Homo sapiens: one gene and its partners. The protein of the gene in region 1 purifies or fractionates together with the protein of each later gene. This does not show direct contact. Each region holds a gene or a part of one and is shown in the gene's direction. Other genes may lie near its edges. The genes, in order: OGFOD3, LMF1, SLC27A4, HS6ST2, DDI1, ACP5 and CANX.

Evidence for each region.
Region 2: the proteins of OGFOD3 (region 1) and LMF1 purify together in Homo sapiens (affinity purification with mass spectrometry, with the first as the bait; one large-scale study listed by BioGRID). This does not show direct contact.
Region 3: the proteins of OGFOD3 (region 1) and SLC27A4 purify together in Homo sapiens (affinity purification with mass spectrometry; one large-scale study listed by BioGRID and IntAct). This does not show direct contact.
Region 4: the proteins of OGFOD3 (region 1) and HS6ST2 purify together in Homo sapiens (affinity purification with mass spectrometry; one large-scale study listed by BioGRID and IntAct). This does not show direct contact.
Region 5: the proteins of OGFOD3 (region 1) and DDI1 purify together in Homo sapiens (affinity purification with mass spectrometry; one large-scale study listed by BioGRID and IntAct). This does not show direct contact.
Region 6: the proteins of OGFOD3 (region 1) and ACP5 purify together in Homo sapiens (affinity purification with mass spectrometry; one large-scale study listed by BioGRID and IntAct). This does not show direct contact.
Region 7: the proteins of OGFOD3 (region 1) and CANX purify together in Homo sapiens (affinity purification with mass spectrometry; 4 studies listed by BioGRID and IntAct, with this or other methods). This does not show direct contact.

What each region holds. Positions count from the first base shown.
Region 1 is NC_000017.11:82,397,905-82,401,675, reverse strand, and holds part of OGFOD3 (2-oxoglutarate and iron-dependent oxygenase domain-containing protein 3), read left to right. Parts: intron 1-2,202; exon of another isoform or gene 2,203-3,356; coding exon 3,357-3,480; exon of another isoform or gene 3,481-3,771.
Region 2 is NC_000016.10:964,384-968,154, reverse strand, and holds part of LMF1 (lipase maturation factor 1), read left to right. Parts: intron 1-3,771. UniProt on the Homo sapiens protein: Involved in the maturation of specific proteins in the endoplasmic reticulum. Required for maturation and transport of active lipoprotein lipase (LPL) through the secretory pathway. Each LMF1 molecule chaperones 50 or more molecules of LPL.
Region 3 is NC_000009.12:128,346,768-128,350,538, forward strand, and holds part of SLC27A4 (long-chain fatty acid transport protein 4), read left to right. Parts: intron 1-1,777; coding exon 1,778-1,936; intron 1,937-3,544; coding exon 3,545-3,614; intron 3,615-3,716; coding exon 3,717-3,771. UniProt on the Homo sapiens protein: Mediates the levels of long-chain fatty acids (LCFA) in the cell by facilitating their transport across cell membranes. Appears to be the principal fatty acid transporter in small intestinal enterocytes.
Region 4 is NC_000023.11:132,703,514-132,707,284, reverse strand, and holds part of HS6ST2 (heparan-sulfate 6-O-sulfotransferase 2), read left to right. Parts: intron 1-3,771. UniProt on the Homo sapiens protein: 6-O-sulfation enzyme which catalyzes the transfer of sulfate from 3'-phosphoadenosine 5'-phosphosulfate (PAPS) to position 6 of the N-sulfoglucosamine residue (GlcNS) of heparan sulfate.
Region 5 is NC_000011.10:104,035,197-104,039,443, forward strand, and holds DDI1 (protein DDI1 homolog 1), read left to right. Parts: upstream 1-1,443; 5' UTR 1,444-1,626; coding exon 1,627-2,817; 3' UTR 2,818-4,000; downstream 4,001-4,247. UniProt on the Homo sapiens protein: Probable aspartic protease. Seems to act as a proteasomal shuttle which links the proteasome and replication fork proteins like RTF2. Required, with DDI2, for cellular survival following replication stress.
Region 6 is NC_000019.10:11,574,575-11,578,971, reverse strand, and holds ACP5 (tartrate-resistant acid phosphatase type 5 precursor), read left to right. Parts: upstream 1-1,326; 5' UTR 1,327-1,379; intron 1,380-1,654; coding exon 1,655-1,915; intron 1,916-2,128; coding exon 2,129-2,256; intron 2,257-2,383; coding exon 2,384-2,729; intron 2,730-3,618; exon of another isoform or gene 3,619-3,719; coding exon 3,720-3,962; 3' UTR 3,963-4,312; downstream 4,313-4,397. UniProt on the Homo sapiens protein: Involved in osteopontin/bone sialoprotein dephosphorylation. Its expression seems to increase in certain pathological states such as Gaucher and Hodgkin diseases, the hairy cell, the B-cell, and the T-cell leukemias.
Region 7 is NC_000005.10:179,715,759-179,719,529, forward strand, and holds part of CANX (calnexin isoform d precursor), read left to right. Parts: intron 1-140; coding exon of another isoform or gene 141-242; intron 243-346; coding exon 347-536; intron 537-3,771. UniProt on the Homo sapiens protein: Calcium-binding protein that interacts with newly synthesized monoglucosylated glycoproteins in the endoplasmic reticulum. It may act in assisting protein assembly and/or in the retention within the ER of unassembled protein subunits.

The sequences.
Region 1 (3,771 bases):
CGTGCCACTGCGGCCGGCTAATTTTTGTATTTTTAGTAGAGACGGGGTTTCACCATGTTAGCCAGGCTAGTCTCGAACTCCTGACCTCAGGTGATCCACCTGCCTCTGCCTCCCAAAGTGCACTCTGTGCAGTTTCAGTTGTAATCAGAAGGAGAGAGAGATTGCAGTTATAATCTGCAATCAGCATCTGCCATCTTGGCACTCTGCTACTTGGCATTAAAATGGTAAACCCAGGGCCGGGTGTGGTGGCTCACGCCTGTAATCCCAGCACTTTGGGAGGCTGAAGCGGGTGGATCACGAGGTCACGAGATCGAGACCATCCTGGCTAACACAGTGAAACCCTGTCTCTACTAAAATACAAAAAATTAGCCGGGCGTGGTGGCGGGCGCCTGTAGTCCCAGCTACTCGGGAGGCTGAGGCAGGAGAATGGCATGAACCCAGGAGGTGGAGGTTGCAGTGAGCCGAGATCGCGCCACTGTACTCCAGCCTGGGTGACAGAGCAAGACTCCATCTAAAAAAAAAAAAAAAAAAGGTAAACCCAAGGGAACAGGAACAGTGAAGGAACCCAAGGCCTGGGACTGCCTTCAGTCCTCCTCTCTCCCTCTCGGGCTGCAGTGTCGGGAGCAGCCGGCGCCACCGCTTTGCCGTAACCACTTTAACCACTTCCTTTTTCACGACTGCACGGCACTTACTGGCCTTCCGCCGGCACAGACAGCAGATTCGCCCTGGTCCGGTCGCTCCCGGCTCCTTCCATGGCCCCTGACCGAATTTTGTCTGCTCATCAGGAAACCAAAGTGGCGTCTGAAGATCAGTGTTTTTCTAATTAGCAGAGACTTTACTTCAGTGAAACAGAACTGTTTAGAAACCTGGGTGATTTTCGTGGTGTTCTGTGGGGAGCTATTTTGCTATGACTTCTGGCCAGTGTACTTTATTTTAAATTTAGTTTTGAATAAATCATGCATCAAAATTTGAATATTTGAATAAGTAATGCATCCTACAAGATTTAAAAGTCATATATATATATATGTATATAAATAAAGGCGAACCAGTAACCCCCTCACCTACAGGTAACCACAGTCCTGAGATCTCAGAGTTCCTTCTTGAATTTCTCTGTGTGTATAAAAACGAATGCATAAGAATACCGCATTCTGTCAGTTGTAAAGAATCACATTTAAAACAGTTTTGGCAATTGTTCCTTCTTCCCATTGCATAACATAAGGCAGCTGTGGCTGTCAGATCATGGACCCTGGTATGGTTTCCTTTTTACAGAAGGCAGTGCAGTCCGCACGCGGCTTTGCTCACTTGACGTCTGTCTTACTCTGGTCTCCCCAGAATCAGAGCCTGGCATGGACTTGTGTTTGGGAAGCTTTTAAGGGGGGACTCCGGGGGGCATCTGTGAGGCCTGGAGGGGGCAAAGCCCATGGGAGCTGAGCCCAAGGGGCCTCCTGGCAGCTGGGAGGGGCAGGGGGGAGGGAGCTTGACCCACCGCCCAGGGCACCACCTGAGACTGGGCTTCCTTACAGCGGATTATGTGAGGTGGATATTGGCGGGTCGGACTGGGGGCTGGGCCCCAGCGTGATCCTGCTCTCCTTCCCAGGAGGACTCAGAGGAGGCCACCTTGCCCAGGGGGAGGGCCCGGTGTCTGCCTTCAAGCCTGGGCTCTCTCCACTGCACACGAGGCTCTGTTGTGTGTGATGTACCTAGCTCAGCGCCCGCACAGTGGGTGTCCAGTTCCGCGCTGGTGCGGCTCCATCCCCCTTCCCTCCCCAGAGTGTCTCTTTCCCTCCCTGGTCTGGGTGTGCTTATGACAGCTGAGCTGGGTGAGATGCGCCCTCCCCTTTGCAGCTGGTGTCCTGGCAGCTGCACCTTTCACCCCCAGGGCGTGGCCCCAGCTGGGTTCTGGAATGGAAGCTGAGTGCTGCGACCCCTGAGTGAAGTAAGCCAGTCACGGAGGGACAGATCCTGCCTGATCCCACGTCCGTGGGGACCCTAGAGTCGCCAGGTTCACAGAGACAGAAAGCGGAATGGAGAGGGCAGGACTGGGGGGCGTGGGGAGTCAGTGCTTCCTGGGGACGGAGCTTCGGCCTGGGAGGATGAGATGTTCTGGAGAGGACGGTGCGGTGGCTGCACAACATTGGAAATGTGCTTAACATCACTGAACTGTGCTTAAAAACAGTGAAGACACAGTTAAGCTGGAAAATCTTAGGTTCTGCATTTTATTACAAGTTTTAAAAAGCTTGGGATTGCTCCACTTCTGAAGAAAGGAGAAAAGCGCGTCCACCGCTGCCTCTGGTTCCCACGTGTGGGCAGCGAGGCTGGCACCGGGGGACCATCCCAGCATGCACACCCTGCTGGCTGGCCTGCTGCCCGTAGCCTTTGCTGGAACACGGCTGCTCCAACATCTGAGCTTACAGGAAATCCTGGGCAACAATGCATGAGGCTGGAGACTCTGCAGAGGGTTTTTAAAGTTGCAAAGGAACAAATGGCCTCATTAATGGGGCCGACACATGTTGTTAATTTACCTTCTGGAAAATAAGAAGCACAGATGTTGGTGACTCACGCGCGTAATCCCAGCACCCGGGAGGCTGAGGTGGGAGGATCACTTGGGGCCAGGAGTTTGAGACCAGCCTGGGCATCATAGCGAGACCCGCCCCCCTGCCCCCACCACCCCGCCCCAACCTCTACAAAAAATACAAAAATCAGCCAGGCACAGTGGCTCATGCCTCTAATCCCAGCACCCGGGAGGCCAAAGTGGGTGGACTGATGCCATCTCTACAAAAAAAAAAATAGAAAAGAAAAAATTAGCTGGTTGTAGTGTCGTGCGCCTGTGGTCCTGGCTACCCGGGATGCTGAGGCAGGAGGATTGTTTAAAGCCAGGAGTTCAAGGTTATGGTAAGCAATGACAGTGCTGTGACTGCACTACAGCCTGAGTGATGCTGTCTGTAAAAAAAGCGATACCCTATTAAAAAAAAAAAGAGGCTGGGTTCAGTGGCTCATGCCCGTAATCCCAGCACTTTGGGAGGCCAAGGTGGGTGGATCACCTGAGATCAAGAGTTTGAGACCAACCTGACCAACAAGGTGAAACCCTGTCTCTACTAAAAATACAAAATTAGCTGGGTGTGGTGGTGGGTGCCTGTAGCCCCAGCTACTCGGGAGGCTGAGGCAGGAGAATTGCTTGAACCTGGGAGGCGGAGATTGCAGTGAGCCGAGATCGCATCACTGCACTCCAGCCTGGGTGATGGAGCAAGACTCTGTCTCAAAAAATAAATAAACAAAAAATAAGAGAGAGAAGCAGCACCTGCCCTGGTCGCATGCTGAGAGCCCATTCTGCCCCCTCCTCCCGGCTCTGCCCTCAGGTGACCTACGGCTCCTTCGACTACACCTCGCTGCTGTACCTCTCCAACTACCTGGAGGACTTCGGCGGAGGGCGGTTCATGTTCATGGAGGAGGGTGCCAACAAGACGGTGGAGCCGAGAGCTGGTAGGAGGCGCGGGCGGGGCCTGGGCGTGGGGCTCCTGGCTCAGGCAAGCACGGTGGGTGTGGGGGGCGTGTCCCTGGGAGCGAGGCTGAGTTCACGGAGCATCTGCTGTGTGCCGGGCCGGTGCTGAGTGATTCCCAGGTCTAGCGCCAGTCCCAACACCCAGGAGGCTGGTGTCTACGGGGCCACATGTCTGAGGTCACCGTCAGTCAGCGGCAGAGCCCCCCTCCACGCCCTGGTGTGTGTCACCTTGACAGGCACCATCCATTTCCCTCCCTGGTGTGTGTCACCTT
Region 2 (3,771 bases), on another chromosome or scaffold:
CCCACCGCGGGCCTGGGCGTTTCCATGTGCTGCCACCGAGGTGTGTAGGTGCTAGGGGTGTGCTCACTGCACACAGACGTGCATACCGCGGGCGTCCTGGGGTGTCGGGCATGCCCTGCTGTGCTGTGGGAGCCGGAGTGTGTTAGCGGAAAGCGGCATTTTCACAGGGCTCAGAGTTGAAGACACACCTGTCTTCCTGACGTGTGGACTCGGGTCCCTAGTGTGATTACTGCGTTGAGCAGATGCTGAAGTAGCACCCTGCCCGGTGCTGACCTCCTGGTGACAACGCCACTACCCCCAGTGGACAGCGAGGAAGCAGGGTCAGCCACTGGCCCGGCTGTGCAGCGATTGTCCGTAGGCCCTGGAGTTCAGCCCTGCCCTTCATTCACGCCACTGTGCAGCCTGCGTATCCTGGACACCCGGTTCACATCTGGGCAGCGGCGTTCTCGGGCCGTGACGGCTCCTGGGAGGACCGAGGCTGCCCGAGGTGGTCGGGGATGCCTGACACTGACACTGAGCTTCCCCTCAGCACAGATGTCACTCCCAGGAATGGCTGAAATCTGGACGAGTAAAAGCTTATGTGACAGGAGTTTCCGGCCTAAGCAGCGGGACCTGGGTGCCATGTTCTTGGTGTGTAGGGGCAGTGCCGGCCGCCCATGGGTGCCGGTGCCTCCTGCAGTCAGGCCTGCTGCTGTCTGTGTGCGCAATAAGGAAACCGAACCCAAGAGTGGGCACCATGCCCAGGCTCACCGGAACAGAGGGCAGAGCAGCCTGGCCAGAATCCCTCACTGTTTTATGGCAGGAACCCCCAGGGTCGTGCGTCGACGTTGTGGCCCGGCGTTCCCTGCGGAAGATTGAGGCCCTCACTGGTCAACCCTGCAGTACGGGGGCGTGTGTGGCAAACAGCTGGTCTGGAGCCTCGTCAGCCAGGCCGGCTCCTTGATGCTTTGAAATCCCCCTCCCAGGGGGCCTGGCCAGGTCCGTCCATGGGCGGCCACAGGCAGCTGGGGCTGGACTCCTGGAATTTCCAGCAGCCCTGTGTCTGTTACAGCGCCAGTGGTAGAGCTGGATTCCCTGACAAGACGGGGGAAGGACAGCCTTGCAGGTGCTACTGAAGACACCCTAGGCTAGAGCTGCCCACCCTGGGTGGGTTCTCCTGGACTGAACTGACGTTGGTTTGCTATTGATGAGAGTCACATAGTATATGTACACAATGCATTTTAACTGCCTCAGAATTAAGGTGTTATCTGGAAACAGTGTAATTACAGTTGGTCAGAATTGGGTTGATAGCAGTTCACTGCAGAGAACTTTCTGGAAGCTGTGACAGGTGGAAGTAGTGGGGCTCAGGGTTGGTGGGCCACACCTTAGCTGTGTGGCCTTGGCCAAGTTGCTCATCAAGACCTTCCTGTCACTGATGAGGTGAGAGTGACCGCTGGGCCGTCCTGAGGCTGACATGGGATTCCTTGCCTGTGCACACTTCCCAGAAGGCGGACCAAGGACACACCCGCCTGGGAGACGGCTCGCAGGCAGCCACGGAGTATATATATCTGAACGTCGGAAAGGACCTTTCCTTTGAAGCTCAAACATTTATGAGATATTGTTACAATTCGGAAGGGATCTGTAGGTGAAATGTGACATGAAGACTGGGTAACGTTGGCATTTGCAGACTGACTTTATGTGTGGCACTTTTCGTGGGTGCCATGGCGTCGGCGCAGAGACACTCCTGAGGGATTTCGTCTGTCGGTCCATGTGTTTGTGGGGGCCGAGTCCTGGACAGGCCTAGGAGGGAACCGCCCCGGCCAGGGCCGGCTGCTCGGCGCCTGCACAGGGCATGAGTGCTGGGGGCTTTGGGACACACGCTCCCTGCTGCCTCTGGGGCAGATGTCCACCTGCACTGCTTGCAGTGAGAGGCTGGGGCCCCAGTGGACGAGCCGTGGTGCCTGAACTGCTCCCGCTGTGTCCCCGCCACGTGAGGCATCTCTTCCTGACCGTGGTCCTGAGACCACCTGGCCTCTGCCTTCCCAGGGTTAACTGTACTTGTTCTCTCCGTGGCTGCCGACACCCTTCTGGCCTTCAGACTTAGCCCTCATCACTCGTGGACTCCTGACCCCACCCAGGGCTGACCACCGGAGCCCTGCTCTCTGCTTCCTTTGCGGCTGATATTGTCCCCATTCCAGTGTTGTTCTTGTGCCTGTCTCCCCTCTAGCTCCTTGCAGTCAGGGAGAGGACTTTCTTTATACCTCTATCCCTTGTCTTCTAGGGGCATCTCCTGCTCAGTGAAATGTGCTGACCCGTAGCAGGTGGTCTCTACCAGGGCTTAGTGTCAGCATGGGACACTTTTCCAGCCATTACCCCTTCTTTCCCCTCTACCCACCTCCAGCCCCGAGGTGCGGCCCAGCAGGACAGATACTGCCACAGCCCTCCCTTGGTTGTGTTCATACTTCCTGGGCTGCTCATGCCTTCCTGTTTGCTGGTGGATTCTCTTTTTGCTGGAGTGTATCCCCAAGCAGCTTTTCCAGAAAGGACCAACTTGCCCGGATCTCTAATTCTCCATCAAAGCCACTTTCCCTCAGAGCTTTGCAGCATTGAGGAGGCATCTTCAAGCATCTGACTCTTCTTCTCCCTGGAAGCTTCTAAAGTCTCAGTGCCTTGCCCTCCTGCTCTCCACCTTTGCTCTCTGTTCTGGTTATTTATCGAGGAGTCTCTGAGGCTCTTTTTTTTGCTCTCTTGTAGTGGCCTTGGTGAGCTCTTCAGCCTCAAGGCTTGTCCTTGGCTCTGGATGAGGCTCTTCTGGCCTCTCCCCAATCTGCCCATGTGTTCCAAACACCGCATGCCCCAGCTGGGTTCCAAACAGGGCGGGTGGGGGCCACTCTCCTGTCTAGCTTCGTAGCGTGGGCTGAAACCTGGGAAAGTCTCTCCATGAAGCTGAATGGAGAAGAACATGGCTTCCGCGAGGCCCTAGGAGCCAAGCACCACACAGAACCCACCGCTTGGCTGTGATCCCGAGTGACGGGGACAGCCTGGACTGCAGAAGGAATGCCCAACGCTGGCGGGAACGGAGGGGCTTTTCTTGCTCGTCTTTCCAGTTCCACATTGTCACATTGGAGTCCTGGGCTCACTGAGATTATGTTGAAAATCCGACCTCTAGGGGATCTCCATGCTAGTTTTGTCCTTTAGGCGTGGAGGCATGCGTGCCGCACTGTGGCGTCTGTTCTGTGCGCCTGCTCACCGCCCTTCCTTCTTTTCCGCGTGGGGCAGTTTTATCGCGTCTCCCCGGCAGCTGCTTCGGCGAGGTGGGGCCGCGGTGCCATTGGTAGCGTGTCTCTGAGTCTCACCGCAGCCCTTGTAGCTTGGCATCCTCGTCAGATGACACCCGAGGCAGGGTTGACGTGGCAGGCAGAATCGTTTGCACCCGTATTTGCTAAACTCTCAGCTGTTCTTCAGAAAATTTGAGGAGAAAATGAAACCAAAAAGAATACTTGAAACCCTGCTCAGTTGGTTTTGTTCTGAGCTTTCAGTGGCTCTAAGAGCTCATGGGAAATGAGTTCTTTTTCTTTTCTCCGGGCCACTTGAGTTCTAATGAAATGCACCACTTGGTTTTACAAGTTCTTCTATAAAATACTTGCTTGTTTAAAAAGCAAACAGCACTGCCCTACTTCGGAGCTCTGCAGCACATCCCTTAAAGAAAAAATACTTGAGGTCACTGTGCTGAGGCCCAGAATTTAACCACGGCCAGTAAGAACCATCAACAGAGAACGGCATTTCTGGGAT
Region 3 (3,771 bases), on another chromosome or scaffold:
CGAGGTGGGCAGCTTTGAGATCAGGAGTTTGAGACCAGCCTGGCCAACATGGTGAAACCCCGTCTCTAATAAAAATGCAAAAAAAAACCTAGCCGAGCATGGTGGTGCGCACCTGTAGTCCCAGCTACTCGGGAGACTGAGGTAGGAGAATCGCTTGAACCCAGGAGACAGAGGTTGCAGTGAGCCGAGATCACGTCACTGTGTTCCAGCCTGGATGACAGAGAGAGGTTACGTGTCAAAAAAAAAGATACTTACCTGAAGCACTAGCAACATGGCTGATGCTAGGTGGCCCCTCAGTACAATGGTAATCATCCTTGTGACTAATTAGGCCGTATCTAGCTCATCTGTAAAATGGGAACAAAATTAATTCCCCACTTTCCTCACAGAGCCTGCATTTTATTTGCTGCCACATTGGGCACCTGCAAAGTACTGAGGTTGCTGCTTTCCAAGAGCAGCTCTAATCTCTATAAAGACCGAGTGAGGTAGGGATCTTGGTTTTATGGATGATGAGCCTGGAGTTCAGAGGGGTTTGTGAGGAGCTCACCCAAGATCACACAGTTAGTAAGTGGTAGAACTGGGGTTTGATCTTCAGCTTGATCACAGCACTCTGTTTTTTCTCCCCACACTGTTGTGGTTGTGGGATAATGAATAGGGAAGTCATTAGGATGCTGAAAGGGGGCCTGGCATGGTGGCTCACGCCTGTAATCCCAGCACTTTTGGAGGCCAAGGAGGGCAGGTCACCTGAGCTCGAGAGTTAAAGACTAGACTGGCCAACATGGTGAAACCCTGTTTTTACTAAAAATACAAAAATTAGCCAGGTGTGGTGGCACACGCCTGTAATCTTGGCTACTCAGGAGGCTGAGGCACAAGAATCACTTGAACCAAGTGAGCCGAGATCATGCCACTGCACTCCAGCCTGGGCGACAGAGTGAAACTCTGTCTTAAAAAAAAAAAAAAAAAGATGCTGAAAGGGGGCCAGGCACAGTGGCTCATGCCTGTAATCCCAGCACTTTGGGAGGCCAAGGCAGGAGAATCTCTTGAGCCCAGGAGTTCAAGACCTGCCTGGACAATATAGTGAGACCCTGTCTGTCTCTATTTAAAAAAAGCAAAAGAAAAAAAAAAAAAAAGAAAGGAAAGAAAAAAATGGTGCTGAAAGGGGAGAGGGAAGAAGGCAGCCAGGGAAGAAGAGAGGGTTGGGCAAATCAAGAGGAAGCCAGGAAGGTGGGGCCAAGCCGACCAGCGCTGCTCCATGCCCGGGGGTGGGGGTTATGTGATGTCCGTGCAGTGCGCAGGGGAGCCTGAAAGCAGGTTCCCGCTCTCGGAAGGGGATGGAGGGCCACTGGCCTCTGACCCGCACTCCTCCCTTCTATCTGGTGCACCACAGAGTAAGTAGTGCGGGATAGTGGGGGGGAGCCCAGACCTTGATGTGAGGTAGAGCTGGCATTGCACGCCAGGTCCAGCACATTCTAGCTGTGAGCAGGTCCTCTCATTCTCGGAGCGTCAATCTTCTCATCTGTAAGAGGGGCTGTCAATGGTCCCTCCTTCCCAGGGCTGTGAGACCAGGGAATGCAGGTAAAGCGGACCTACTCTGTGGTTAGCCCATGGCTAATAGAACCATTGCCGGTGCCCCTGTCAACACTGAAGGCCCAGTTGCTTCACTGCCTCTCCTCCTGCCCAGCCAGTATCCTCAGCAACATGGCCAGCCCTGCTGGGAGCAGAGGTCCCTGGGAACATGGGGTTTTCTGGCCTGCCTGCTGACTGCCCTGTCTCCCCACAGCCATCTGTGAGGTCCATGCCAGCCTGGACCCCTCGCTCAGCCTCTTCTGCTCTGGCTCCTGGGAGCCCGGTGCGGTGCCTCCAAGCACAGAACACCTGGACCCTCTGCTGAAAGATGCTCCCAAGCACCTTCCCAGTTGCCCTGACAAGGGCTTCACAGGTGGGCTCCATCCCCTCCCCATAGAGGGGCTCTCACACAGGCCCTGGACAGAGCACTGGCCTCAGTGCCAGAAGGAGGCTTTTCTGGAAACTTGCCATGTGCCTGGAACATGTCACGTCACCTCCCTTTTTCCATCTGGAAAATGGTGACAGTAAACCTGGGCCACTCCAGGGTTACTGTGAAGGTGACATGAGCTGATGTGTATCAGTGCCAGATACAGGGCTGAGAACACAGGAGCTCACAAAGTCCAGTGTGATTTGTTGAACAAGCCTTCATTGATGCCTAATGGGCAGAATCCTGTGGACTCCGGGAACCTGCCTGGTCTGGGCTTTGGTTGGGGTTGGGTGGGAGGGTGGGTGAGGAGCAAGACCCTTTGTATATTCATCAAGTGCCTCTTCAGTGCAGGACACTTCAGGATCTCCAGCTGTGATCCTCTCCCAGCACTGTGCTGCCTCCCTGACCCCACCTCCAGGCAGCCTTCCTGAGCCTCTCACCCCTCTTCTTTTATACTGTAGCCTACCTGGTTCTTCTGCTCTTCTCATTCTCTTTCCTGTGAAGCCACATTGCCTGGTGGCTCAGAGCTTGGGCTGTCGAGTCAGATCCGAGTTTATATCCTGGTTCTACTGCTTCCTTTGTGTGAACCCTGACACCTGCCCTGCCCTTGGAGCCTCAGTTCCCACAGCCATAAAACTGGGGACAGTAGCAGAACCTACTCTATGGGGTATCTTTGAGGGTTGAAAAAAATACAGTGGGGCCAGTCCTGAAGCTAGGGTGTGGCAGGAGGGGCTCAGTAACTGGTCATTGTCATCAGCACTGTTTAACTTCTCTCTTGTATGTGAATCTGGTCTCTTGGGTGCATTTGTCAGCTGCTTGAGGGCAGGGACTCTGGCTGGTTGCTCTGGTGCCCTCATAGTGCCTAGGGCTGGCAAACAGCAGGCAGGCAGAGAGCATGAGGTGTCTCGGCAGGCATTCTAAACACGTGGAGTCTGCCTGTGGAGTTCCTGACCTCCAGGGAACCTCAAGTCTGGTAGGGCCGAGCCTCACATAGAAACTCTAACGTGGCAATCCCTGTCGAGGGCTGCAGAGTGGGACAGATCAATGCTCAGCAGTGCGGAAGCTACCTCAACACCCCACTTCCTGCAGCTAATGCCTCCCTGTGCTCTATGACTTGGGGCAGGTGTCACCTTTATCGTGAAGCCCACCTGGCACCACCTCCCCTCCTGCAAGCTTGGGCCAAATGTGGCTACTGGGTTTCAACAGGTCCTGTGCCCTCCCTCGGCACTTGTTGCTTAGTATTGGAATTGCCTGTGTCCTCATCTGACTGTTCCACTGAGCTGTGACTGCCAAGAGGGCCAGGCCCGTGCCCATCTTACTCACTGATGTCTCTCTCCACCAGGGCCTAGCACAGAGCAAGGGCCCAGGAAATATTTGTTGGAATGGATGCCGGTGTTAGAGCTGAATGGTATCTGAGGTTATCAGAACAGGCTTCCTAGCAAGGGTGTGATGGGAACAGGTGTTGAAGGGTGCACACCTGCAGGTGTCCATTTGTGTGACCCTTTGCCCAGCCCTGAGCTGCCCCCGACAGCCACTCGCGTCTGTTTTCTTTAGATAAACTGTTCTACATCTACACATCCGGCACCACAGGGCTGCCCAAGGCCGCCATCGTGGTGCACAGCAGGTAAGGGGCAGGTGCCCAGGGTGGGGTAGGCACAGGCAGGGCTGGGGAGCCTCCTTCTGCCTTTCTAGGGCCCGCTCAGCCCTTGGCCCTGTGCCTTCCCAGGTATTACCGCATGGCTGCCCTGGTGTACTATGGATTCCGCATGCGGCCCAACGAC
Region 4 (3,771 bases), on another chromosome or scaffold:
TGGAGGCAAAGTACCAAGTTCTGTTACTAATGAGGTGACTTTTGTCAAGCACTAGCTCCACTCTGAGCCTTAATTTCCTCGCCTGTAAAATAAAATGGAGCGGATGACCATTAAGACAATGGTCAATAACATAGGTACCACTATCCCTATAATAGCTTTTATGGGGAAGTCTTGAGAATTTTGTTTTCTTTTTGCTTTAAAATTGCTAGATGATAGGACCATCTCTTTAAAACAGTTTTGCTGTATAACAAAGCAAATCCTGACACACTCTTTATTTTTACTATGGTGTTGATTAGTTGGACCAGATTATTGCCAGAGCAACTAATACCTGGTCTTAATGAGAGAAAACAAGAGGAGTACAGATGGTGAGATGGGAAAGAAACGGTTTTGGTAAATATCAATGGGGCCCTTTTTGAATTTTGGTGAGCTGAATGATGTATGAAAACTATTTGCAAGGCTAGCATATTTTTCAACCACTAGTAAAGCAATAAAACAAATAACATTTTTGGTAATCCCCATTGTATATGCAGTTTCATAAATATACAAGATTATGATTATCGCTGCCTCATAATTAACAATTTGCATAAGTACTTGCTATTTTTTAGTTGTCTGAATAGATTTTTGTAATCCAGAGAAAGAAGGGAACAATCAGTGGAAGCCATCCCAAATGCCTAGTATTATTGCTACACACTTGCACAATTAACAGCGATACTAATTGCTTCAGACCAGAACCTCATTTGTTTTTCTAAGGACAGCAAAAACATTAATAGCCAGAGTGCCTGTCAATCTCTCTCTCTTTTTCCTATAGCCAACTGTATCATAGGGTCTGCAGTTGACTGTAAGCAAATTATTTTGTTGGATTTTCAGTGTATCATCTTGTAATGGAGTTTCCAAGTTTCAGTTAGCAATCAATGCCTTGAACAGCCAGACTTATTTTTATAATATTTTAACAATAGACCTCTATAAAGTTAATGAATAAAAGGATGCTGACATGCCAATCAGTTCTGCTGCTGCATTTACATTCTACTACATATTTCATATCTTTAAAATTATTGGCATTAGACCTGCATATAAGAATCATAGAAAGTCCAGGCTGGAGGGGAGCTTTAAGATCATCCCGTCACACTCCCTCCTTTTTCAGATGAGTATGATTGTCAGTAATTTGAATCTTGATAACAACCACCAAATCAATGATGCCACACTTTTTTTTTTTTGTACCTTTCAAACGTTGGGAACTATTATAGTAAGTTTGAATGATAACTGGTTGTTTGGGAATCATATAGTTTCAACTTATTTTCAAAACAACTGAATCAGAATTTTAAAAATATGCCCTCATAAGGCTTACCTAAACATAGCCATAATGTTGATGGTATATGTGTGAAAGGAGATGTTCTATGCAAATCACCTGGCAATGAGACACTCAACCAATATCAGCTCTCTTTCCTTCATGCATAGATTACCTAATTAACATTACTATAGTGGAAACATTACATCAGTGACTGACAGTCTAGGCGTTTAGAGTCAAACTGACCTCGGGTCCAATCCTGGCGCTGCTACTTTCCAGCTGTGTGACGTTGGGTAATTTAGTTCATCTCTGTTGGCTTCAGGTAGTTTTCTTATATGTGAAATGTAGCCAGTATATAGGCTTGTTTTGAGGATTAAAATGAGATCGTGCATATCAAGTGCTTAGCACTGTTCCTGTCACATAGTAAACAGTCGATAATGGTGGTTATTACCATCGTTTTTTGGCATACCCAGCGGCAGCCTCACTCAATAGTATATTTAATCTTACAGTGATTTGGGGTACTTACACATACACCTGTACACATGCATATTTGGGCACACAAGTTCATAAGATTTGCATCAGAAAGACTGCTTTCCCAAAGGTTACCTGTGACCACCATGTTTCACAATTCAATGGCCTCTTCCCTGGCCTCAGTCTTCTTGACCTCTTTGGAGATTCTGGCACTTTTGCACATATTCTCTTGCTTGAAAGGGTTCATAATCTATCTTGATGTCTTCTCTACATTCCTTAGGTTTCCTTTGTTGGGATCTCTTTTCCACACGTACACACACACACACACACACACACACACGCGTGCCCACATCTTCTCCCTCCCCCACTGCCCCTTTAAATAGAGCAATTCCCAAGGTCCTGTCATTGATCTGCTTCTCTTCTGTTGCTATATTTTCTCCCTGGGTAACTTCACCTCCTCACATAGCTTCACCTTTAACCTCTACACTAATGATTCCCAAATTGACCTCTCCAACCCTTAATTCATTCCGGAGCCCCAGGCTAACTCCAATTTCCAATTGCCTGCTGAGAATCTCCAGGGCAGGATGTCCTAGGAGACTGAAAGCGTAGTCTGGCTTTTGTCATCCTTCTCAGGAATGCAGATGGAGGAATCTAGCTTCAGAAGTATTAAGGGTTGAAAACAAGGCACAAGTATGGAGCATTAGTCTGAGCAGAAGTAACAGTGGTCTAAGTTAGCAAAGTGCTTCAAACTGAGCTTTCCAGGGGAGGCATAACAGATAAACTGTGAATTTCTGTTATTATGCACTGGAGATGTCAATTGGCAGTTGGAACTTTAAAAGGTTTATATTTTCTAGGGATAAGGGAACAGCTTCCTAAGATGAAAATTGAGTTCAGTTTTTAGGTGCTGGAAGATTGGCATGTTTGGAAGAAGTGTTAATTAAAATCATCTTTCTTTTCTTTTCTTTTTTTTTGAGACGAGTTTTTTTCGCTCTTGTTACCCAGACTGGAGTTCAATGGCGCGATCTCAGTTCACTGCAACCTCCGCCTCCTGGGTTCAAGCAATTCTCCTGCCTCAGCCTCCCAAGTAGCTGGGATTTCAGGCATGTGCCACCACACCTGGCTAATTTTGTATTTTTAGTAGAGACAGAGTTTCACTATGTTGGTCAGGCTGGTCTTGGACTCCTGACCTCAGGTGATCCACCCACCTTGGCCTCCCAAAGTACTGGGATTACCGGCGTGAGCCACCATGCCTGGCCAAAATCGTCTTTCTTTGGACACTTATTATCATTAATCTTGTTTCAGTGTTTTGTTTAAGAAACGCACGTGCCAAGGGGAAAGATGATGTACTGAACTTGAATGATGAGCAGGTGGGAATTTTGTGAGAGCAAATGTGTGTGTAGACACATACACATATGCTGGGTCAGGTGTGCCTGAGATTTTGAATGTGTGCAAATAATTCTATCAGTGATAGATTTTTTTCTTTCATTCATTCTGCAGATATTTACAGAACATGCCAAGCTCTCTGTGGAGCAACACAGCTGTGAATATAGAACATATAGGGTCTCTGTCCTTAAGTGTCTAATACATTTTTTTTTGTTATATGCAGGTACATTGACAATTTAATTTAGTTTAGAAATATCTGCAACATGTCACAAATTGTTCAATGGCCATAATCTTGCTGACAATCTTAATGACCAAAGAGGAACTTAAGGGAAATAAGACAGTGTTAAAGTGGGAAAGGAATGTACATAAATCTGAATTAGAAATTGATTACTTCCTTTAAATTTAGTAAATATTGAATTGCTTTGGGGTTTTACATTTCAAGTTGGCTTGCCAGTGTTCCAGGCCAGGGTAAGAATGATTATGTCTAACCCTAAAACTTAATTAGAGTAAAGGAATAGACAACTCCTGGTTAATGTGTGTACTATTGTCAGGAGAATTAGTTGTAAATGAGTTATTTCTACAGAAACTGCAGGCTCAGGGCTGATATCTTTAGCACAGAGGACAATATCCCT
Region 5 (4,247 bases), on another chromosome or scaffold:
CATTCATTCATTCCCCTTCAAGGCAATGGCCCATCTACCCTATATCCCATTTTAGAGACCCTCTGTGTTATCCACACATTCCACTTTTTTACACTCCCCACCTCCAAGGGGTATGCACACTCTGTCCATTTTACTCAAGAAACATGTTTATTCTCTACTGCTTTGGCTTTGGGCCTCCTGACTTTCCACACTCTAGCAACAGCTCCCTCTTTGAACCACTGGAAAAGCCTCCTGACTGGCCCTCCTGCCACATTATGTCCTCCATGTGTTGCAAGAAGCCTCTTCCTTAAGTCAATTTAAAAAAAAAAATCACAAACACCTGCTTCAAATCTTTTCCCTTTCCTTTCCTTCCTTACTTCTTTTTCTTTTTTTTTTTTTTTTTTTTTGGAGGAGGAATTCTTGCTAATTGATAATATTTAATATTTAAACTCCGTAGATTCACATATGACTTCATCAATTGGCTCAACTAATTTTTTTCCAGCTTCATATCCTGGTATTCAAAGTCATGTACAATTTTTTTATTGCACAAAATGTCTCATCTTTCTCTAGAAATAACAGCCCTTGCCATAAATTCCTGCTTTTGTAACATGAAACTGCTTTCCTTTGGAGTGAGACCACTTTGCACCTGGAAGATGCTCATCCTTCAACATCCAGCTTGTCTCCTCCTTAGGAAAATATCCTCTGTTCTGTTGGTGATACTAAAGGCAGTACCCTGAACATGTCTTTGTAAAAGATTTTGCCTTTAGTATTGTGATTACCCATTCACCTGTCTATCCCTTTCCAGAAATGTGAGCTCCTCAAGGGCAGGCTCCAAATCTGACTTTCCTACTATGCACATAGAATGGTACTTGCCATGTAAGAAACAAATCCTTACTGTTTGGGGAAAAAACAAAAGTACAAAGAATACAACTCTAAAATGAACAAAACAAATGATAATATGCTGTTTAGAAAGTGTTGAAAAACTAGGCATGGTGGCTCACACCTGTAATTCCAGCACTTTGGGAGGCCGAAGTGTGGGGGATTGCTTGAGCCCAGGAGTTGGAGGCCAGCCCGGACAACACAGTGAGACCCCAAATCTATTAAAAAAAAATACAACAATTAGCCGGGCATGGTAGACTGTGCCTGTAGTTCCAGCTTTTCAGGAGGCTGAGAGAGGAGGACTGCTTGAGCCTACGAGGTCGAGGCTACAGTGAGCTGTGATTATGCCACTGTACTCCAGCCTGGGTGACAGGATAAGATCCTGTCTCAAAAAAAAATGTGTTGAAATCATTTCTTTCATATCATGTGTTAAATAGGCTTTGAAGGGCTGGCCTTGAAACCTGACAGCTTTGAGCCATCGTGTATCCATGGGAGTAGGCATTCTAGGTTCCAAACAGCACACTTAGAAATGGACTTTGGAACACAACGTGCTACCTCAAGGCTCCACCTGGCCACACAGCAGGCACTGAGGCTGGGAGACAGCCCCCAGACAGATGAGTGTCCGCGCCTCTCTGAGAGGTGAATGAGCCCGGACGGTCCCTACCTACCAAGTCCTGAGGAGCAGCGGCACCAACGACGCAGGCCCGCCCCAGCCCGCCAGTGAGCCGCCCATGCCCTCTGCTAGCCCGGCCCGCCCGGGCCCCCGCCATGCTGATCACCGTGTACTGCGTGCGGAGGGACCTCTCCGAGGTCACCTTCTCTCTCCAGGTCAGCCCCGACTTTGAGCTCCGAAACTTCAAGGTCCTCTGCGAAGCGGAGTCCAGAGTCCCCGTCGAAGAGATCCAGATCATCCACATGGAGCGACTCCTCATCGAGGACCACTGTTCCCTGGGCTCCTACGGCCTCAAAGATGGCGATATCGTGGTTTTACTGCAGAAGGACAATGTGGGACCTCGGGCTCCAGGGCGTGCCCCGAACCAGCCTCGTGTAGACTTCAGTGGCATTGCGGTGCCTGGGACGTCCAGCTCCCGTCCACAGCACCCTGGACAGCAGCAGCAGCGCACACCCGCTGCCCAGCGGTCACAGGGCTTGGCGTCAGGAGAGAAGGTGGCCGGCCTGCAAGGTCTGGGCAGCCCCGCCCTGATCCGCAGCATGCTGCTCTCCAACCCCCACGATCTGTCCCTGCTCAAGGAACGCAACCCTCCCTTGGCGGAAGCCCTGCTCAGCGGAAGCCTTGAGACCTTTTCTCAGGTGCTGATGGAGCAGCAAAGGGAAAAGGCCTTGAGAGAGCAAGAGAGGCTTCGTCTCTACACAGCCGACCCACTGGATCGGGAAGCTCAGGCCAAAATAGAAGAGGAAATCCGGCAGCAAAACATTGAAGAAAACATGAATATAGCGATAGAAGAGGCCCCCGAGAGTTTTGGACAAGTGACGATGCTCTACATTAACTGCAAAGTGAATGGGCATCCTTTGAAGGCTTTTGTTGACTCGGGCGCCCAGATGACCATTATGAGCCAGGCTTGTGCCGAGCGATGTAACATCATGAGGCTGGTGGACCGACGGTGGGCTGGGGTTGCTAAAGGAGTGGGCACACAGAGAATTATTGGCCGTGTTCATCTAGCTCAGATTCAAATTGAAGGTGATTTCTTACAGTGCTCTTTCTCCATACTTGAGGATCAACCCATGGATATGCTTCTAGGCCTAGATATGCTCCGGAGACATCAATGTTCCATCGATTTGAAGAAAAATGTGCTGGTCATCGGCACCACTGGCACGCAGACTTATTTTCTTCCTGAGGGAGAGTTGCCCTTATGCTCTAGGATGGTAAGTGGGCAAGATGAGTCTTCGGACAAGGAAATTACACATTCAGTCATGGATTCAGGACGAAAAGAGCATTAAAGCACGTTATAAATATGTTACCACCTTGAGGGAGCCTCAGGTCCCCGGCAATTATAAGTTAAGAGCTTACTGGCAATGTAATCATTAAAAAACATCAGTAACAACTAAACCTGGCCTTGGGACTACGTTCTCAGATGGGTAACTAACGTCAATCCTGATTCCTTGGTCTTGGTCCCTCTTCCATTTCCCTTGTCCAGAGATCACTGAAAGGCATCCTGGGAAGGCTCTGGAGGCTCCAGCTGATTTCCAGATAATCCATGAAAAAGAAAACCAGCTTCTTCCTTTAGAGACACTATCCTATCAGATTACAGGTGGCTTATCCAAATCATTGCTATTTTGCAGAATTCCCTGGAAAAATGCTATGGCTGCAGACCTTACAAGGCATCCACATAAAACTATTTCACATCAGCACTAATAATTCTTTCTACTGAGAGAAATATGCCCATTTTCACAGGTTTTGTTTTCTTTGGGAAGGGTATTAGAAATGGTAGGTCAGTTACACTATGATGTTAACTAATACTTATACATGTCTGTTTGGGGCAGCATAAAGACCAATTTCCTCATATTTACACCTTCCCTTCCCCTGGATCCCCTGCAGTCACCCTGCAATCCACAGCTAAAGACTATTTTTGCCATATTTGAGAAAGTGGATTTATCTCCAAGGATGCTACATTAATTTTCTATTTCTCCTGCATTCAAAGAAACTCTGGCTATAAAACAAAGGCAATAAATTAGATTTTTTAAAAAAGAAATTATGGTACTTCTTGGGAGTCAAGTTGTACAGTGGTGGGAATGAGAGGTGGGGACAGGCAGTGGTCCAGGTTCTCTAATAGTCATTGCAACTAGATCATCTCTCTCTCTTTTTCAAAGTAAAAATCTGCTTTATACATTAAGCTGCTGCTACATCAGTATTGTTTGAACAAAGGTTTTCACTGTTAAAATAACATTTGAAAACTTTTGAATGAGAAGATCTCTAAGGCCTCATTCAGAATTATCCATTCTGACAATGTTAGTGTTTATTACAACTGACAGTGGGTAATGGAAGATCCTAGACTTAATTACAACCCATGGCTAAAGCACCTGAGAGAAAAGTTTCAGCTTCCTGAGGCCATCAGATGCAGGGGAAATGTTTCAGGACAATAATTTATCAAAACTAGTATTAAAACAGCGGATTCAAAATCAAGATGTGTATGTTTTGATTACACTTAATTACTTAGACAAATTAGTTCACCTACTTTACAACTGAGATTCCTCACCTAATAATTTTTTTTTTCCTGGGAGGGGTCACTTTTCAAGCACTAAAACCTCATTATCTTAAAGGATCTGGGATATCCTTTAAGTTATTCTATTTTCCCGACAAGATATAAAGCCACATAAAGCATTCCCAAAGGATACAGAAAAAAATAACTCTCCCTTATAATCTCCATATA
Region 6 (4,397 bases), on another chromosome or scaffold:
GGGTCAGCCCTGAGCCCTCGAGCAGGGCGGATCGGCCGCTGCCTGCTTAAAGCTGGGGCCGCCAGGAGTGCGATCGCCTGCGGATCTGCAGCTGGGCACCGGCCGCAACGCCCGCCCCGCGACGGCAGGTGAGATGCGGGCGGCCCCGTGGGAGGGGTCTCTGCCTGTCCTCGTCACCCACTTCCTTCCCGTTTGTTGCTGCTGCAGGGCTGGGAATGGGGGGGACCAAGCACTTCGCAGGGTGACCCGGGGAGATCTGTGAGCCAGTGGCCTCAGCGTTGAATGAGAGCTCTCTCCCGGGTCCGCGCTCGCAGGGACTGAAGGGACTCCTGAATGTCCGCGGGACGTGTCGCGGCGGCGCCCAGCACGGAGGAGGCAGGCAGGGAGGTGAGGAGCAGGTCAGACCGGCCGCAGGTGCAGGGCCTCCTGCCCTCCCAGGCTGCGGTCCCGTGGAGGGCCTGCAGACAGCTGCTGAGACTATGAGGGTCAGAGGTCTGTGGTCACGCGCGCTATCACCAGCTAGCTGCCTCCTGCCTGGTTCCTCCTGCAGGAATGGGAGTCTGGGGGGAGGGGAGGGTGTGGGCAGGACTTCCTGGAAAAGGGAAGCCCGTTGGTGTTTATGTGTGGGATGGAGAGAGGGCAGGGGGAGGACGGGGACACACGCGGAGTCCCCCACCCAGATGTTGTCAAACACAGCTCCCACACCAGACACGCAACCCATCCTAGAGATGCAACCCAGGCACACACACATGGACACACACAAAACTCCATCCATAGGGATTCCCACCCAGTGCCACGTGAGAACACAGGCGTGCATCGCAGACAAGCCACACAGGCCTCGCAGGCTCAGCATACATGTCTGCAGCAACACCATCAGGTACAGAGCCGAGGCCCAGGTAGGCATGCTCAGCTGCACGCAGGAAGCAAGACACACCCAGACACACACAGGTAAGCCCTTACTCAGAGAAAGAAGGTGCAGGAGATGTGTCTTGGGTAATCACAGCCACAGCCTCTCAAGTGTGCACACACACACACACTCACACTGAGATACACAGACACACAGAGATACCTGGACGTGTCAAGCCTACAGCACAAACAGGCCCCTGCAGGTCCACCCGGAGGCTGTGTGGGCCGAGGCTGCTGCACACGTGTGCCCAGATCCTCCCACCCCCACCCCAATCCCGTGTCCTGCTCCAGGGAAGTCCAGGGCTCACATGACCCAAGGGGAGGGCTCCCGGGACAGCCCTCGGAGAAACTGCATCATCCTCACTAATGATCCACTTCCTCCTCAGGGAATAAAGGCTCAGGGACCGGCAGTTCTACTCTAGAGCCCACCAGCCTCTCAGAGCCTCCGGTGACTGGCCTGTGTCTCCCCCTGGGTGAGTGCTGGGCAGGCTAGGTGGAAGGAGGGTGAAATGGGCCTGCAGGGCCATCTTGGTACAGCTCGCCCTCTCACAGACCGCGCCCCCCTTCCCTAAGCCAGCTTGTGCAGCCTTGTGCAGCTTGTGTGTCCTGAGAATTAGGGCACCAAGGGGTTCCCGCAGGGGCAGCCTGCAGCAAGCAGTCTCCCTCTATCTCAGGGCAGGCGGGGGTCTCAAGGCCTCCCTGCCCTTGTCACAGCCCGGGCCACCTATGCTTGTCTCTCTTCTCCCAGATGGACATGTGGACGGCGCTGCTCATCCTGCAAGCCTTGTTGCTACCCTCCCTGGCTGATGGTGCCACCCCTGCCCTGCGCTTTGTAGCCGTGGGTGACTGGGGAGGGGTCCCCAATGCCCCATTCCACACGGCCCGGGAAATGGCCAATGCCAAGGAGATCGCTCGGACTGTGCAGATCCTGGGTGCAGACTTCATCCTGTCTCTAGGGGACAATTTTTACTTCACTGGTGTGCAAGACATCAATGACAAGAGGTTCCAGGTCTGTGCCCAACAGAGTGGGGCAGGAGGTGGGGGCGGGCAGTGGGGAGAAGCCGCCTTACCTAGTGACCTTCCTTTGGTGAGGGCAGAGGGAAGGTGATGGGGCACCTTTGGGCGCCGGGAGCATTCAGTGTCTCCCTTATCCTGACTTGGTGGGAGGATCGGCATAGCCACTGACCCCAGGGAAGAGGCCTGCCCTATCTGTTTGCTACAGGAGACCTTTGAGGACGTATTCTCTGACCGCTCCCTTCGCAAAGTGCCCTGGTACGTGCTAGCCGGAAACCATGACCACCTTGGCAATGTCTCTGCCCAGATTGCATACTCTAAGATCTCCAAGCGCTGGTGAGCCACCCTCAGCCCTGCCTTCCGAGATCCTCACATAGCAGGGACACAGGGGCCCTGTGGCTTGAGCTGACCCTGGGACTTCTGCGCCCAAGATGTGCACCCACGACCTCTATCCCCTCCACAGGAACTTCCCCAGCCCTTTCTACCGCCTGCACTTCAAGATCCCACAGACCAATGTGTCTGTGGCCATTTTTATGCTGGACACAGTGACACTATGTGGCAACTCAGATGACTTCCTCAGCCAGCAGCCTGAGAGGCCCCGAGACGTGAAGCTGGCCCGCACACAGCTGTCCTGGCTCAAGAAACAGCTGGCGGCGGCCAGGGAGGACTACGTGCTGGTGGCTGGCCACTACCCCGTGTGGTCCATAGCCGAGCACGGGCCTACCCACTGCCTGGTCAAGCAGCTACGGCCACTGCTGGCCACATACGGGGTCACTGCCTACCTGTGCGGCCACGATCACAATCTGCAGGTGAGGGCCCTGTGGGTGGGGTGGGAGCTGGGTGAGGGGGGTCCCCATCCCAGCTGATGTCCACATGGCTGGGGTCCTCCTGCTGTTTGAGGGTCTCCTGTGGCCTTCAGAATGTCTAGACTGTCCCTCAAATCTTGCTGTCTAACCAGGAAAACACTCCAAAGCCAGAATAATATCTTCGAATTGCCAATTTCTTTCTTTCTTTCTTTTTTAAGCTCTTTTTTTTTTTTTTTTTTGGAGACAAGGTTTCATTGTTTTTCACCCAGGCTGGAGTGCAGTGGTGCAATCGGGGCTTACTGCAGCTTCAATCTCCCGGGCTCAGGTGAACCTCCCACTTCAGCCTCCAGAGTAGCTGACACTACAGGCATGGGCCACCACATGCAGCTAATTTTTGCTTTTTTTTTTTTTTTTGAGAGGGAGTGCAGTGGCACGATCTCAACTCACTGCAACCTCCGCCTCCTGGGTTCAAGCAATTCTCCTGTCTCAGCCTCCCAAGTAGCTGGGATTACAAGCATGGGCCACCAAACCTTGCTAATTTTTATATTTTAGTAGAGACGGGGTTTCACCATGTTGGCCAGGCTGATCTCGAACTTCTGACCTCAAGTGATCTGCCCGCCTCGGCCTCCCAAAGTGCTGGGATTATAGGCATGAGCCACTGCACCTGGCCCTTGCGCATTTTTTTTGTAGAGGCAAGGTCTCACTATGTTGCCCAGGCTGGTCTCAAATTCCTGGGCTCAAGCAATCCACCCCCTCAGCCTCCCAAAGTGCTGGGATTACAGGCATGAGCCACCACACCTGGCCACCAATTTCTTACTAAGTGCTCTACCTATGAAATAGGATTAATACACTCCTAAAAGTCAGGAAATTGAAGCCAGGAGGGGTTACATACCTCAAGGTGACTCTGTGGTTAGGGCCAGATCGAGCCCTGGACCTTAGGCAGGGCTCTGCTCAAAGCTGGGTCTCCACTGACCCCTTGTCCTCCATCCTCAGTACCTGCAAGATGAGAATGGCGTGGGCTACGTGCTGAGTGGGGCTGGGAATTTCATGGACCCCTCAAAGCGGCACCAGCGCAAGGTCCCCAACGGCTATCTGCGCTTCCACTATGGGACTGAAGACTCACTGGGTGGCTTTGCCTATGTGGAGATCAGCTCCAAAGAGATGACTGTCACTTACATCGAGGCCTCGGGCAAGTCCCTCTTTAAGACCAGGCTGCCGAGGCGAGCCAGGCCCTGAACTCCCATGACTGCCCAGCTCTGAGGCCCGATCTCCACTGTTGGGTGGGTGGGCCCTGCCGGGACCCTGCTCACAGGCAGGCTTTTCCTCCAACCTGTGGCGCTGCAGCAGGGCAGGAAGGGGAAACACAGCTGATGAACTGTGGTGCCACATGACCCTTGTGGCACAGATGCCCACGTATGTGAAACACACATGGACATGTGTCCCAGCCACAGTGTTATGCTCTGTGGCTGGCTCACCTTTGCTGAGTTCCGGGGTGCAATGGGGGAGGGAGGGAGGGAAAGCTTCCTCCTAAATCAAGCATCTTTCTGTTACTGATGTTCAATAAAAGAATAGTTGCCAAGGCTGAACCAGTGCCACTGGTGTGTTATGTTCTCCTGGTTAGAGTGGCTGGGCTCCCCTGAGCTGCTGTTCCTTGCCTCCATCTCTTACCCC
Region 7 (3,771 bases), on another chromosome or scaffold:
TTCTCACTGGTGTATATGTGTAAGCCCAATAATTGTGTTAGTTTATGTAGTTTCTTGTTTTTTTTGTTTTTTTTTTTTAGTGTCTATAAGTCAAGTCTTTGGTGTTAAAGATTTTAACTATCATTTGCTGTAATTCTTAGAAAGCCGAGGGACTAATCATTTATGTTTCGTGCATAAGGAAATGGGCGTTAGCTTCCCCAAGACCCCAGGAGCCAGGCATTGTTCTTACCCCAAAGCCTCAGGTCAGACTTCTGCTGCTTCACGTTAGAAGTCATGATCTTTTGTATTATGGTAAAGGGAGCTTGGAAAATTAAGTACTTTTAATTCCATTTAATGTTTCTTTCAGTCTTGAATCCAGATAATAGTTTTGAAATACTGGTTGACCAATCTGTGGTGAATAGTGGAAATCTGCTCAATGACATGACTCCTCCTGTAAATCCTTCACGTGAAATTGAGGACCCAGAAGACCGGAAGCCCGAGGATTGGGATGAAAGACCAAAAATCCCAGATCCAGAAGCTGTCAAGCCAGATGACTGGTGAGTCTTGGGGAACTGTCTTCAAGTGTAAGGGAGCATTTCATATATTCCATGTGGCTTGAACAACGAAATGTTGGTTGAGTAAGCTCTGATAATTTCAGTAATCCATGATGCAGTCTAATCTGTAGGGAAAATATAGAGTACTATAGCTGGAAAGGGGCCATAGTGTAATCATCTGGATTGACTCACCATTTTACAAGCCACAGAATGCCACACTTGATAAGAGTTTGTCTGTGGTGACACTGTTGGTTTGTGGCAGAATCTCAGGTCCTTTAACCTGGCTACTCCAGGGCTTCTGTGAACTCACATTTAAAGCCAAAGTTCTGAAATGCTAAATTTTAATTTGAAAAATAACCTTTTTCCTATTTAAACAACAGTCAATTCTCTGCTGTGGGTTGGGTGGTAGAATACAAAGCCACAAGGACACCACCATCTGCCTACACAGAGCTTGAAGTCCAGTTGTGAGGCATGATGTTGGCATGTGGTATCGTAAGGGTTCATGAGAAGGTGCCACAGGAGACCAGAGCACCAGGTGTACCTAAACTAGGCATGGTTTCTTGGAGCAAGGCAAATCAGATTGAGACTTGGCAGTGAGGTGAGAATTAAGGAGTTGGTGAATATGGGAAGGGGTGTTTCTGATTGAAGAATGTCGTATGCAGAAGTAGAGGAGCAGCAATGAGCTTGACATGCGAGGGAGAAATTACATGGCCTTTTATGTAGGGTGCACATTGAAGAGTGAGGAGAAATGAAGATAGCTGGGGCTGTATTCTTGTATATGGCTGTCTTTGAACTTGCAACTTCACACAGTGACTCCAGAAATGTCAGAAAGTGAACAAAGAAATTCTTACCCTTTGTAAAATATCCTCCTATGCTTAGCAATTACATTCTAGATTATCTTTTTCCTCCTTGAAAGGTAAGATACATATAACTGAACTTTTGTACTGCACTAGTATAAATGCCAAGTTTACTTGTATATTTGGTGTATATTAGATTTGGACTTAGCCTTGTTCAGTATTATATTCCTTAACTAGCTTTATCACCTAAGAAGGCCCCTGTACCCATTAAGCGGCCACTCCCTGTTTCCTCCCCCAACTCCCAGCAACCACTAACCTGCTTTCTGCCTCTCTACATTTGTCCACTTTGTATATTTCATATAAAATGGAATCATACAGTATGTGGCTTTCTCTGTCCAGTTTCTTTCATTTAGCACAGTGTTTTCCAGGTTTATCTGTGTTGAAGCATGTATCAGTACTGCATTCCTTTTTATGATTGAATAAATTCTACTGTTTTGATAATGCCACATTTTATTTATCCATCCTTTGGTGGACATTTAGGTTGTTTGCTCCTTTTTGTCTGTGATTATGAATAATGCTGCTATGAATGTTCATGTACTGGTTTTTACATAAATATGTTTTTTCTTTTCTTGCTTTTTTTTTTTTGAGATGGAGTGTAGCTCTGTCGCCCAGGCTGGAGTGCAGTGGCGCCATCACGGCTCACTGCAACCTCTGTCTCCCGAGTTCAAGTGATTCTCCCGCCCTAGCCTCCCAAGTAGCTGGGATCACAAGCGCATGCCACCACACCCAGCTAATTTTTGTATTTTTAGTAGACACGGGGTTTTACCATGTTGGTCAGGCTGATCTCGATCTCCTGACCTCAGGTGATCTACCCGCCTCAGCCTCCCAAAGTGCTGGGATTGCAGGCGTGAGCCACCACACCTGGCCTCTTTTCTTTAGACATGATCTCTGTGTTGCCCAGGTGGGAGTACAGTGGTACGGTCACGGCTCACTGCAGCTTCCACTTTCTGGGGTCAAGCGATCCTCTCCCGCCTTAGCTTCTCAAGTAGCTGGGACTGCAGGTATGCACGCCTGGCTAATTTTTATGGGTTTTTTGTTTGTTTGTTGAGACAGAGTCTCGTTTTGTCACCCAGGCTGGAGTGCAGTGGCACGATCTCGTCTCATTGCAACCTCTGCCTCCCGGGTTCAAACGATTCTCGTGCCTCAGCATCCCAAGTAGCTGGGACTACAAGCGTGCACCACTGCACTCGTGCCTCACCCTCCAAGTAGCTGGGACTACAAGCGCGCACTACTACAAAAAATTCTTGTATTTTTAGTAGAGATGGGATTTCACCATGTTGGCCAGGATGGTCTCAAAATTCTGATGTCAAGTGATCTACCAGCCTCAGCCTCCCAAAGTGCTGGGATTACAGGCGTGTGCCACCGTGCCTGGCTGTGCATGTTTTTTCTTTTTTTTTGAGACGGAGCTTCGCTCTTGTCGCCCAGGCTGGAGTGTAGTGGCGTGATCTTGGCTCACCACAACCTCTGCCTCCCGGTTTCAAGTGATTCTCCTGCCTCAGCCTCCTGAGTAGCTGGGATTACAGGCATGTGCCACCACGCCCAGCTAATTTTGTATTTTTAGTAGAGATGGGGTTTCTCCATGTTGGTCAGGCTGGTCTCAAACTCCCGACCTCAGGTGATCTGCCCACCTTGGCCTCCCAAAGTGCTAGGATTACAGGCATGAGCCACTACACCTGGCTTAATTTTTGTATTTTTTGGTAGAGACAGGGTGTCGTCATATTGGTCAGGCCGGTCTTGAACTCCTGTCCTCAGGTGATCCACCCGCCTTGGCCTCCCAAAGTGCTGGGATTACAGGTGTGAGCCACCGCACCTGGCCTTGTGTATTTTTTTTTTTTTACTAGAGACTGGGTTTCACCTTGTTGCCCAGGCTGGTGTGGCCTCAAGTGATCCTCCTGCCTTGGCCTCCCAAAGTGCTGAGATTACAGGCATGAGCCACTCTGTCTAGCTATAGATATATATTTTCATTTCTCTTGGGTATATATACCTAAAAGTGGAATTGCTGGGTCATGTGGTAACTAACTTTTTGAGAAACTGCCAAACTGTTTTCCAAATGAGCAGTACCATTTTACTTTCCCACCAGCAGTGTATGAGGGTTTCAGTTTCTCTGCGTTCTTTCCAGCATTTGTTTTTATGAGTCTTTTTTATTAGAGCCAACTTGGTACTAAGTGGTATCGTTTTGATTTGCCATTTCCCTGATGGCTAATGATGTTAAGCATCTTTTCGTGTGCTTATTGTATGTTCATATTGTATATTTTTACATTCGTATGTCTTCTTTGGAGAAATGTCTATTAAAATCATTTGCCCATTTTTAAATTGGGTTGTCTTTATATTATTGAGTTGTAAAGAGTTATTTTACTAGGCCCTTAGCAGATATATGATTT